Regions from separate parts of the Homo sapiens genome. Here regions 1, 3 and 4 are each reported to be linked to region 2. The links are microRNA targets in miRTarBase. Many come from high-throughput screens and were not tested one by one. Region 2 holds a microRNA gene; each other region holds the end of a gene's coding sequence.

Region 1 (3,093 bases), not on the chromosome of region 2:
TTTCACTTTTATTTTAATAAGATTCCTGAACACCACACAATCCTCGAATCGTGGTTGTTACCAAAAAATCAAGTACCAAGTGGCCGGGAAGCATTGTCCCAAATGCCTTTAAAGGCATATTCTCACAAATGTTCATCTTTCATGTACACTTGGCTTTAAAAGAACACATCAAATTTTACATCAACATAAAGGTATGTGAGTGATACACAAATGTGTTCTTGCACATCATTATAAGGCTATTAGTTTGTTCTGTGCAAGCATATACACTAAGCTTAAATTTATCTTCTTCAAAAGCCACCTCTGCTCCTGCTATGAGGTTTTAGATCACCCAAGTTGTACATTTCCTAAATCCCTCTTCAGTTCCCATTCCCATCCTGTTTTTGTGTAAATCCAAGTTTTCTCCTAAAACTTCTGGAGCATCTCTAGAAGATAAGTTCTCCCGACAATTCCAAGAAACCCACGAGTAAGGTACTTAAATATAACACATTTATGAGAAGGGTTGGCTTGTCCTCTGTGCTTTTCCTTCCTTCCTATAAACATGTGCAGACGGCAGGAAAGTACCCCCGCCTCCACCCCTCAACAGCGAAGCTTCTGAAGATCCCGACGGAAGGCATGGCAGCCATCTCCAATCATTCTTCTGTTTTTGATGTGTGGCTTTTGATGAGAGAACAGTGATATGAACACCCTTTGCACCAAAGTGACTTGCTTATTTTTTTTATTAAATGATACATTGAAAGTATAAAAAGTTGCCGCAGTACAAACAAATTACAGAATAATGCATATAAAAGCGCTATGGACTACACGTGACAATTCTGCTTAACTTCCATCTTGATGATTTTATATCAGTATCCAAAATTATATACTCCAGCATTTTTTCCGAATATAGTCTTACATGATTGCAATTCCTGAGGTAAACTAAGTGTCCACTGCCAACATCCTTGGACGAAAACCAAGTCCCCCGGGAGAATTCAGATATTTATATTCACACATACAATACAACGGAATTCATCAATGTAATCAGATATTGCAGATTTAAAAATGGAAAATGGACTCTTGCAATACTTCTGCATCCATATATAATTTTACCAGCAGGGCCTCCCAAAATGTTGTGTAAGTATAGTTTAAATGGATTTCATTAATAAGTTTCTGCATTTAGATAAAAATTCTTGGCTAATCTGTAAGAAGTGAACACTGACTAGCATTGCCAAACAGAAAATCAAAAGTTTCAACAATTTGCAAAGCAGCACAGAATTGACACCCTAAAGAGGATGCCAATTTTGCTAACTACAGCTCTTACCACTCTTCTCCATGGAAAACCTTTAAGCTAAATGTTGTCAGTGTTTAGGTGTGCAGGCAAAATTTAATTCTGAATATACCATCGAACTTTTGCCAATCAGGAGCTGTCTATCATCATAGTCAGTTGTTTTCAATGAAATGAGCCTGTGGACACTACATTAAAAATACTTCTTTAATAAATATCGAAGTAGCGTATTAGAGATAGCACATACTATTTTTCTATCCCAAGAATAAAAATTGATGTTTGGTAAGAGTTTCGGAGCCCAAACAAGTAGGGGGCTGGCCCTCTTCTGGCTCATCTGTGATTGCACAACCGAGGGCCACACGGAGATTAAACAATGCCATCTTTGAAAAATCCCTTTCTGGTATTTCTCCCAAAGCCTGTCTCTTCATGCTTACTTCACATTCTTTATCTAATAAAATAAACTCTTTGTTTTATTTACAGCAAAATTATTACAGCAAATTTACTTCTCCTCTACCTTTTAATTAAATCTTCCAGTAAGCCAAAGTCTAAGGAAAGAAAAAGTACATTGTTGCCTATTGAAAAGGTAATACAAAGCCCTTTCATTTCCTTACAAACTTTAAGGGCCTTTATAATACTTCCTAAATGGCTGGGCTCAGTGGCTCACACCTGTAATCCCAGCGCTTTGGGAGGCTGGGGCACACAGATCACCTGAGGTCAGGAGTTCAAGACCAGCCTGGCCAGCATGGTGAAACCCCATCTCTACTAAAAATACAAAAACTACTCCGGTGTGGTGGCACAGGCCTGTTTTCCCAGCTACTTGGGAGGCTGAGGCAGGAGAATCACTTGAATCCGGGAGGCAGAGATTGCAGTGAGCCGAGATCGTGCCACTGCACTCCAGTCTGGGTGACAGAGCGAGACTCCATCTCAAAAAAACAAAAAATACTTCGTAAAAACAATACTTTTTTTTTCAAGTCAAATCCAATAAGCTAGATGACAAGAGTTAGCTTTTATTCACAAATGTAGTTAAACATGAGGGGTGTTTTGTAGAAACTCCAATTTCTACAAACATTAGTGGTGCATTTTGGTAACATTGGGACAATAAATAAGTTATTTAATTAATAATACAATTTTAAGACAAAAGATACCCCAAACAAAGCATTATCTGTTGACTGCCTGAGAAACATGAAGATCTTCAATGTTAGTACTTTTCTGTTCCTCCTTTCTTAGGTGGTCATCTGAAATGCACAGAAACCAATGTTAATACTTATCCCAAGTCAAAACACACAGATAGGTAGACATAGCTACAAATATCTTAGGATGTTACATATTTAATATTCTATGAGTACTTTAGATGGTTTAGGACAATGAAAAAAACCCATTATTTTTTAAACACTATTGAAGAAATCAGAGGCCAAGCGTGGTGGCTCACGCCTGTAATCCCAGTACTTTGGGAGGCCGAGGTGGGTGGATCACCTGAGGTCAAGAGTTATAGACTAGTCTGGCCAACATGGTGAAACCCCGTGTCTCCTCAAAATACAAAAATTACCCGGGCGTGGTGGCAGGCGCCTGTAATCCCAGCTACTCGGGAGGCTGAGGCAGGAGAATTGCTTGAACCTGGGAGGCAGAAGTTGCAGTGAGCCAAGATCGTGCCATTTCACTCCAGCCTGGGCAACAAGAGTGAAACTCGGTCTCAAAAAAAAAAAAAAAAAAAAGAAAGAAATCAGAAATGTCTGGCATTAGGGACTCTAATTATTCAAAAGAGTTTCTTGACTTTTTTTTTGAGTAGAGTACAACCTGCAGTAAACCCATGCATAAGTAGTTACAAACCTCTC
Region 2 (3,114 bases):
CAGAGTGAGACTCCATCTCAAAAAAATAAAAGAAAATAAAATTCTGAAATATCTGAAAGGGCTGTACCTTCCACCTAAAGGAACACTGGCAAGAAAAGCAATCCACAAGCCTGTCTGAACAAACAGAAACAGACCTTAAATGGACAAACGTAATATTGTTTCTTTATACCATCTACATAATATTTACATTTTCCCATAGCTGGGAAATTACTCACTACAGTCAAGTACCCCTAAATTTACCTCTGGCATGTCATGAAACCTGCATCTGCTTAAGGCCTAAACGGATAAACGTGCTAGTTAAATTTCTCATCTCAGAGTTCCTCTGAAATTAAAGTCCAATAAAATCAACTGAATTTTAATTCCCTTGGAATGCCCTGTTAACTGTAAAACACTAAGAAATGCTAAAGTTAATTTTGGTACTGGTACTTTTCCTCCTACGTGATATATTTAACTATGTTGTTTTCTATTTTCATTTAAAAAAATTTTGCTCCTATGACTTTGCTGGCAAAATATCAAAAAAGATTCCTCGAAACAAGCATTTGTAGAAAATTTTCACGGTGGCCGGGCGCGGTGGCTCATGCTTATAATCTCAGCACTCAGGGAGGCCGAGGCAGGCGGATCACCTGAGGTCAGGGGTTCGAGACCAGCCTGACCAACATGGTGAAACCCCGTCTCTACTAAAAATACAAAAATTAGCTGGGCATGGTGGTATGCGCCTGTATTCCCAGCTACTGGGGAGGCTGAGACTGAAGAATCACTTGAACTCAGGAGATGGAGGTTGCAGTGAGCCAAGATCGTGCCACTGTACTACAGCCTGGGCAACAGAGCAAGACTCCATCTCAAAAAAAAAAAGAAAGAAAAAAGAAAATTTTCACAGTAAGCTTGTTTGAATTAAGAAATTGGGGATTAAGGAGGGCTCATAATCTATCAATCATAAAGTCAGAAGTAACTCTTCACATCTTTTTAAAAGATTCACTTGATAAAAAGATTCTGAAAGAAAAAATTTAAAGTAGGAGTTAATCAGAATAAAAGAGATTAAGCAACAATTTTCTACTTAGGCTTCAACAAGCCTGAAAGTATTAAGTTGGTGCAAAAGTAATTGAGATTTTTGCTACTGAAAGTAATGGCAAAAACCGCAATTACTTTTGCACCAACCTAATAGATGCCAATGCCGATTCCTTTCTCATCGCAATTTTTCAACAAAAGACAGTAAGCCTATAAGTAAACAGTATAAATTATCTTTGGTGGGTAAGGTTTCCAGCAGTTTGTCCTACCATCCTTTTTTCAATACCTAGTATACTTACAAAATAAGTTAGGACTGGCCAGGCACGGTGGCTCACACCTGTAATCCCAACACTTTGGGAGGCCAAGGCAGGCGGATAACGAGCTCAGGAGTTTGACACCAGCCTGACCAACATGGTGAAACCCTGACTCTACTAAAAATACAAAAAAAAAAAAAAAAATAGCTGGACATGGTGGTGCATGCCTGTAATCCCAACTACTCAGGAGGCTGAGGCAGGAAAATAGCTTGAATCTGGGAGGCAGAGATTGCAGTGAGCCAAGATCGCGCCACTGCACTCCAGCCTGGTGACAGAGCAAGACTGTCAAAAAGATAAAAATAAATAAGTTAGGTTCTTCTAAATTCTACCAGAGTGGTTGGAAAACAAGCCCTAAATTTATTGAAATTCAAAGATAAACAGGAACTTCTAGTCACCCTTTTTTTTAAAACACATGGTTAGTAGAAAACACATCACCCAACTCCCCACCTTCTGAATCCCACGGGTTTATTTATGGTGATGCTTTCTTAGCAATGCCTTTCCCATGTTGTAACTACAGGAGTAATAAGTATTTTTCTGAGTTTCAGTGATGTCAGCCTGAAACACATTCTGAAGTATTTCAAAATGCCTGGGCCGGGCACGGTGGCTCACGCCTATAATCCCAGCACTTTGGGAGGCCCAGGCGGGTAGATTACCGGAGATCAGGAGTTCGAGACCATCCAGCCTGATCAATCCTGTCTCTACTAAAAATACAAAAATTAGCCGCGCATAGTGGCGCATGCCCATAATCCCAGCTACTTGGGAGGATGAAGCAGGAGAATCACTTGAACCTGGGAGGCGGAGGTTGCAGTGAGCCAAGTTCGCACCATTGCTCTCCAGCCTGGGCAACATGACCGAAACTCCATCTTAAAAAAATGAAAGCCTGAATATGTAATATCCTTTTGGTACAAACAGTGTAAGTCAAAAAAAACCCTGAAGTTCAGCTGACCTCAAAAAAGCAGAACCATCTACCAAGCTAAAAATGCACAGACTCAAGCAGTGCTCTCTCAAGATTTTGCCTACCTAATAGACAAATGGGCAAAGGTCATGCATGGACAATTCTCACACAAGGGAGATTTACTCAGAAGTATTTAAAAAGTATTAAATTCACAGTTAATTAAAGGAATGTGCCAGGCGCAGTGCCTCACGTCTGTAATCTCAGCACTTTGGGAGGCCGAGGTGGGTGGACCACCTGAGGTCAGGAGTTTGAGACCAGCCTGGCCAACATGGTGAAACCCCATCTCTACTAAAAATACAAAAATTAGCAGGGCGTAGTGGCAGGCGCCTGTAATCCCAGCTACTTGGGAGGCTGAGGCAGGAGAATCTCTTGAACCTGGGAGGCGGAGGTTGCAGTAAGCCAAGATCGCGCCATTACACTCCAGCCTGGGTGACGAGTAAAACTCCACCTCAAAAAATAATAATTTAAAAAATAATAATAAAGGAATGTAAATTAAATAGCAATAAGGTGCCTTTAGTTATTGAAGTTTTTTTTCTCTATTTTAATGACTATATCCAATGGAAGTAAGGGTGTAATGAAACTTAAAAATAGACATAAATTGGCAATATATAACTAGAATCATAAAAAGTCACACCCTCATAATTAGTAAAATTCCATTTTTGTACAACTATCCTATAAAATTAATCCATAATGGAAAAGGTTTCATGCTCAAGGTATTTATTAGTGCTATTTACAGTAGCAAAAATTAGAAACCTCCACATTTTCCAATATTTGGGAATAACGCCAATTCAATAAAATACAATGTAGACAACAAAATGACAGCTGAAATCAAGCAGCAGT
Region 3 (3,114 bases), not on the chromosome of region 2:
ATTACAAGGCTGCTATAAGGATGAGAGGGGACAATGAGGGTACTTTTTAATGAAAGCATTCTTGTCACCACCAGGGAACCATAGTCAGGATTTGGGGGCATGTAGGTGTCATTCCACAGCCACTTACCAAGCAGCCCTCTCTTAGCTTGGTGCTGGGACTCATTGCCTCTCCAATGGAATTTTCCAAGTGTGTTGAGGGCTGTCTTGCTCCTTACCTACTTGATTCTCTTGCAGATCTTACTGTGCCGAGATCGCTCACAATGTTTCCTCCAAGAACCGCAAAGCCATCGTGGAAAGAGCTGCCCAACTGGCCATCAGAGTCACCAACCCCAATGCCAGGCTGCGCAGTGAAGAAAATGAGTAGGCAGCTCATGTGCACGTTTTCTGTTTAAATAAATGTAAAAACTGCCATCTGGCATCTTCCTTCCTTGATTTTAAGTCTTCAGCTTCTTGGCCAACTTAGTTTGCCACAGAGATTGTTCTTTTGCTTAAGCCCCTTTGGAATCTCCCATTTGGAGGGGATTTGTAAAGGACACTCAGTCCTTGAACAGGGGAATGTGGCCTCAAGTGCACAGACTAGCCTTAGTCATCTCCAGTTGAGGCTGGGTATGAGGGGTACAGACTTGGCCCTCACACCAGGTAGGTTCTGAGACACTTGAAGAAGCTTGTGGCTCCCAAGCCACAAGTAGTCATTCTTAGCCTTGCTTTTGTAAAGTTAGGTGACAAGTTATTCCATGTGATGCTTGTGAGAATTGAGAAAATATGCATGGAAATATCCAGATGAATTTCTTACACAGATTCTTACGGGATGCCTAAATTGCATCCTGTAACTTCTGTCCAAAAAGAACAGGATGATGTACAAATTGCTCTTCCAGGTAATCCACCACGGTTAACTGGAAAAGCACTTTCAGTCTCCTATAACCCTCCCACCAGCTGCTGCTTCAGGTATAATGTTACAGCAGTTTGCCAAGGCGGGGACCTAACTGGTGACAATTGAGCCTCTTGACTGGTACTCAGAATTTAGTGACACGTGGTCCTGATTTTTTTTGGAGACGGGGTCTTGCTCTCACCCAGGCTGGGAGTGCAGTGGCACACTGACTACAGCCTTGACCTCCCCAGGCTCAGGTGATCTTCCCACCTCAGCCTTCCAAGTAGCTGGGACTACAGATGCACACCTCCAAACCTGGGTAGTTTTTGAAGTTTTTTTGTAGAGGTGGTCTAGCCATGTTGCCTAGGCTCCCGAACTCCTGAGCTCAAGCAATCCTGCTTCAGCCTCCCAAAGTACTGGGATTACAGGCATCTTCTGTAGTATATAGGTCATGAGGGATATGGGATGTGGTACTTATGAGACAGAAATGCTTACAGGATGTTTTTCTGTAACCATCCTGGTCAACTTAGCAGAAATGCTGCGCTGGGTATAATAAAGCTTTTCTACTTCTAGTCTAGACAGGAATCTTACAGATTGTCTCCTGTTCAAAACCTAGTCATAAATATTTATAATGCAAACTGGTCATTTTTGGGATTTTGTTTTTGAGACTCATTCTGTCACCCCGGCTGGAGTGCAGTGGCTTGATCTTGGCTCCCTGCAACTTCTGCCTCCTGGGTTCAGGCGATTCGATTAACAATTGGAGACGAGTCGTGCAGAGGAAAGAAGTAACTTAGAATCTAATCTTTATTAACCTGGGATATCACAGAAAATACTTGGGCCTGCCACTTGTATTTCTTTGTCCTCAATACTGAACACTAGACACATTTGAAACCTTCCTCAGAAGGAAACAAACCAACTGGTTATGCCTGGGTGGTGGCATGGAAGATGCCCATTGTTGCCCAATTTGCTAATAAGTATTTTGAAATTAGAAATGAAACATGAGGTCCAAGCCTGTCCAGTTCCCTACCCAACCCATTCCTCCTCCCTGGAAAAAAGAAACCCGTATCATCTTCCAAATTTCTGATTCATCACTGCCACTTAAAAATGAACCGTTTTGAATTTTAAAATGTGAATAACTCAAGTATCTTTTCTTTTGAGATGCCCGGCCTGAGCACTAACTTCAGGCATTGCTGAATGCAGTGAAGAAACCAGAGTGGTGTCTGCTGCCTCCTGATCTTTTACAGCTGACAGCACAGCCTATTTCTAAATACTACTAGTTTGTGAGGCAGAGACACCCTCTGAAGGAACCAGACAGACTATGGAGGGGTACAGTGTGAAGTCACTGGAAAACTTCCTCACCCTATTTCTTTGGATGACTGTCCTGAGTTAAGGAAGGGGCCCAACTGTTGGCAGCCTCACAGCTTGGGCTGGGGGCCTTTGAGTTGGGTCCCTGGAGAAGGCACTGTAAGCCCTGACCAGGAGCGACAGGGCCCCCAGTGAGATGGTGGAAGGGCAAAAGTAGAGACCTGCGATGGTGGGATGGGGAGGCCTCGGACTTGGGTGGGCTCCTTTCTCTTAAGCGAGGGCCCACCTTGGTGCTGAGGGGACTAGCTGAGCTCCATTGAGTCTGTGCTGGGGGCTGAAGCGGAATCCTTCTGGATGCTTTCAAAGAGGGCAGCAAGTTCAGGGTTGGATCTGATTTGGGAAGAGAAGTCGGCCATGATGGGGCTTTTCCCCACCTCGGGGATGGTCAGCAGGGCAGCCACTGCCCTCATTGCAGAGCGCTTCAGTTCATCTTGCTTTTCAAACTCCTGCTTCACAGAACCAGCTTTGACCTAAAGTAGGAAACAGCAGAAGCAGCCATCCTTTATTGAGCCTGGCCCACACCACTGCCTCCTCACTGGTCTTTGGCTTCCTCTCTGCCCCATCATCTTCCCCAACATAAATCCCTGCTGCGAGGTCTCCTGAGGCTTCTGTCTCACCAGCTATTTCCTAACTCCACCTCTGGGCTTTTGCACTGGCTAGTTTCCCCACAGAGGTTCTTTGCCATTCAAATCAGCTTGAGTACAGCCTGAGGGGCCTCTGAGCAGCCAATCTGAAGTGCTCGCTTTTTGTTAATTGACAGTGGCAAGTACTGTGTTCCCATACTTACCTCCTACAGACTGCAGGGATCCAGCCTATATTTGCTGTGCTTAAAACCAGCTCTTAGCACCATATGACTAGACTGAATGAATGGATCACTGCGA
Region 4 (3,114 bases), not on the chromosome of region 2:
TATTGATAAGCTGGATGACTGAGTCAAATTTCTTTCTGAAGTTTCCCTTATTGCCTCCAATTCTACCCTCTGAAGCCATACAGAACAAGTCAAATTCATCTTTTTTTTTTATATCACAGTCCTTTAGATATTTGAGAACATGTATCAAGGGCCTTCCCAATCTGAGTCTTAGCTCTTTCCATGAATGGACTGGGGCCTCAGTGATTCTCAAGGACCCTTATAGCTGTTACATCATGTTTTCTTGATTCTCTAACCTCTAAATCTGTCTTCATCAGCTAGTTTTGTGAAGGATAAGGACAGGCCTCCTGTCCTATTTGGATTGACTTGTTTTTTTCAGGTGATGACTATAGATAGTTACCTTTTAGAGTACTCCCCATCCCAGGATGCCCATTTTTTTTTTCTCCATTTCAGCAGTGCCCCCCAGAGACATTGAAGAAGGCAATGTGAAGATGCTGGGCATGCAGATCCCCATAAAGAATGTTGAGATGCTGGCCTCTGTTTTGGTTGCCATTAGTGTCACCCTTCTGCTCGTTGTTCTGGCTCTTGGTGGAGTGGTTTGGTACCAACATCGACAGAGAAAGCTACGACGCAATAGGAGGTCCATCCTGGATGACAGCTTCAAGCTTCTGTCTTTCAAACAGTAACATCTGGAGCCTGGAGATATCCTCAGGAAGCACATCTGTAGTGCACTCCCAGCAGGCCATGGACTAGTCACTAACCCCACACTCAAAGGGGCATGGGTGGTGGAGAAGCAGAAGGAGCAATCAAGCTTATCTGGATATTTCTTTCTTTATTTATTTTACATGGAAATAATATGATTTCACTTTTTCTTTAGTTTCTTTGCTCTACGTGGGCACCTGGCACTAAGGGAGTACCTTATTATCCTACATCGCAAATTTCAACAGCTACATTATATTTCCTTCTGACACTTGGAAGGTATTGAAATTTCTAGAAATGTATCCTTCTCACAAAGTAGAGACCAAGAGAAAAACTCATTGATTGGGTTTCTACTTCTTTCAAGGACTCAGGAAATTTCACTTTGAACTGAGGCCAAGTGAGCTGTTAAGATAACCCACACTTAAACTAAAGGCTAAGAATATAGGCTTGATGGGAAATTGAAGGTAGGCTGAGTATTGGGAATCCAAATTGAATTTTGATTCTCCTTGGCAGTGAACTACTTTGAAGAAGTGGTCAATGGGTTGTTGCTGCCATGAGCATGTACAACCTCTGGAGCTAGAAGCTCCTCAGGAAAGCCAGTTCTCCAAGTTCTTAACCTGTGGCACTGAAAGGAATGTTGAGTTACCTCTTCATGTTTTAGACAGCAAACCCTATCCATTAAAGTACTTGTTAGAACACTGAAAGACTGAATTTGGTGATTTTTGACAGTCTCTGTGGCTTCTGTCACTGTGATTGAAACAGAAAATACTTAGGGGGTGAGTGAGTATAGTATGTATTTGTCTAGCCTTTGTAGAACCTACAAGTTTTTGTTTTAGAGATGAGGAAGCTGTTCCAGAGGAAGCATCAAAGAGTGCTGGGTACCACCCTAGAAAAGGAGCTGTCGCATAAATGACAAAAATTTTCTGAGTGTCAAGAAAATTTGCCAGAGGGAAATAGAAGTCTGAGACGAGACTCAAACCTGTCCAGTGGGCCAGGGGAAGTAGGACCATATCTTATGGGGCCTTTTTGGCAGTGGTGGTGTGAAAGGTCTAGTTGCAACTTTGGGGGCTTCCTTATAGGATGGAGTCATTCTTTCTGGTATTTTACAGCAATATTCCTTTGTTACATGCAAATTTGAGCCAAATATTGGTTAGAGAGCACAGATAAGTGATAAATTTTAGATTGGGTAAGATGGCCCACCCCACTGCAATATCCATAATATTGTACCACATGGCAAGTGGAGAACAGAAGAGGTATCAAGGAGAGAAAAGATGATAACTATGTACTGTTTTACACTTTAAAAAGCATTTTAATTCTTGATTGCGTTTGGATTACCTCAGGGCAAGTCATTTTACATTTGAGTAATGTTATCCATTTATACATTTGAGTGAACAAAAGCTTATGGACATTAAGTAACTTCATCCAAGATCCCTCAGGTAGAAGTTGAGCAGGGATTCATGTATTCATCTGTTTGACTCCAAATACCTATTTCATCCTCATATATCATGGAAACATCCACTAATCTCCATCCACCTTACCCATATTGATTCCAACTTTTCTGTCTGTCCAGCAATCTGTCTGTCTAGGTAGCAATCTCTTGAAGATAAAATGTAGAAACTCACAGAGCTGGTGTTCAGTTACGATATAAGTTTGGAGGAGAAAACACAATCCAGAAGCTATGATTCCTCTTGTTTTTCCATGGTCAATGGGTTTCTGGAGAGCTTTACTGAGAATCTCAGAAATAAAGTGTGGGTGGAAGGGGGATTTAGATGGCTAGTTATCCAAGAGTTAGTGTTTAGGCCATTGCAGAATCAATGATTTAACAGCAGCAGAACTGTTTTGGCCTGCAGTTAACATGAATGTTAATGAAGACCAAGTACATGCTAGGAATTCCAGTCAATTAATGGTTATAATTTACATGCAACTAGGAGGTTCTTAGCTTGGTCTCAGTTATAACTCTAAGAGACTAGGAGAGGTAGATGAGATGGAATGCATTTCTTCTTATTTTGTAATCCTGCTCCAGGTCAAGGAATAGAAACTCAGAGCCCATGTATTTAAGAAAGAAATGTATTTTTGTGGTAAGTTTGCTCCAAGTAGGGATACAAGTATCTATTTTTGACAATCAAGTGACATTGCCATCTATTCAGTTGCTCAAGCTGGAAATTATCAGTGTCAACACATCAGTGAGTCTCGGTTTTATCTCCAAAATGTATTTATCCTATTCATTTGTTTCTATCTCCATTGCTATTCGTTTCCATCTCCATTGCTACCACCTAAGTTTAAAACACAACCATCTGACCCAAAGCAATCTATAGATTCAGTACAATCCCTATCAAAATACTAATGACATTCCTCACAGAAATTAAAAAAAAAATCCTAAAATTCATACAGAACCACAAAAGACACAGAATACCCACAGCTATCCTGAGGAAAAAGAAAACTGGGGGAATTACATTA

Evidence for each region. The annotated mature microRNA hsa-miR-548c-3p reads CAAAAAUCUCAAUUACUUUUGC and lies in region 2 at 1,090-1,111, opposite strand. An mRNA with a match to its seed (bases 2 to 7 or 8) in the 3' UTR can be bound and repressed. Matches are read on the target gene's strand: a 7mer-m8 pairs with bases 2 to 8, a 7mer-A1 pairs with bases 2 to 7 and ends in A, and an 8mer does both.
Region 1: the mRNA of CEP20 is a reported target of hsa-miR-548c-3p. Seed matches in the 3' UTR shown: 7mer-A1 at 2,025-2,031, 7mer-m8 at 1,647-1,653, 7mer-A1 at 1,528-1,534, 7mer-A1 at 1,456-1,462, 7mer-A1 at 1,158-1,164 and 7mer-A1 at 1,034-1,040.
Region 3: miRTarBase lists RPL32 as a target of hsa-miR-548c-3p. Seed matches in the 3' UTR shown: 7mer-m8 at 1,039-1,045.
Region 4: the mRNA of HEPH is a reported target of hsa-miR-548c-3p. The part of its 3' UTR that is shown has no 7-base or 8-base seed match.

What each region holds. Positions count from the first base shown.
Region 1 is chr16:15,865,021-15,868,113 of GRCh38, forward strand. It overlaps CEP20 (centrosomal protein 20), which reads right to left. Exons shown (of 5, transcript NM_144600.4): 5 at 699-2,496. The coding sequence ends at 2,420. Among named protein-coding and RNA genes, the nearest start is that of MYH11, 9.5 kb to the left of the region's middle.
Region 2 is chr12:64,620,566-64,623,679 of GRCh38, reverse strand. MIR548C (microRNA 548c) reads right to left here and starts at 1,171; the gene lies at 1,075-1,171. All of the region lies in intron 1 of RASSF3 (Ras association domain family member 3), which reads right to left. It overlaps MIR548Z (microRNA 548z), which reads left to right and starts at 1,075; the gene lies at 1,075-1,171. RefSeq lists an enhancer at 2,090-2,249.
Region 3 is chr3:12,833,344-12,836,457 of GRCh38, reverse strand. RPL32 (ribosomal protein L32) reads left to right here. Exons shown (of 4, transcript NM_000994.4): 4 at 235-1,973. The coding sequence ends at 364. CAND2 (cullin associated and neddylation dissociated 2 (putative)) reads right to left here. Exons shown (of 15, transcript NM_001162499.2): 15 at 1,655-2,703. The coding sequence ends at 2,476. Among named protein-coding and RNA genes, the nearest start is that of SNORA7A, 5.5 kb to the left of the region's middle.
Region 4 is chrX:66,266,029-66,269,142 of GRCh38, forward strand. It overlaps HEPH (hephaestin), which reads left to right. Exons shown (of 21, transcript NM_001367233.3): 21 at 412-1,361. The coding sequence ends at 644. Among named protein-coding and RNA genes, the nearest start is that of HEPH, 100 kb to the left of the region's middle.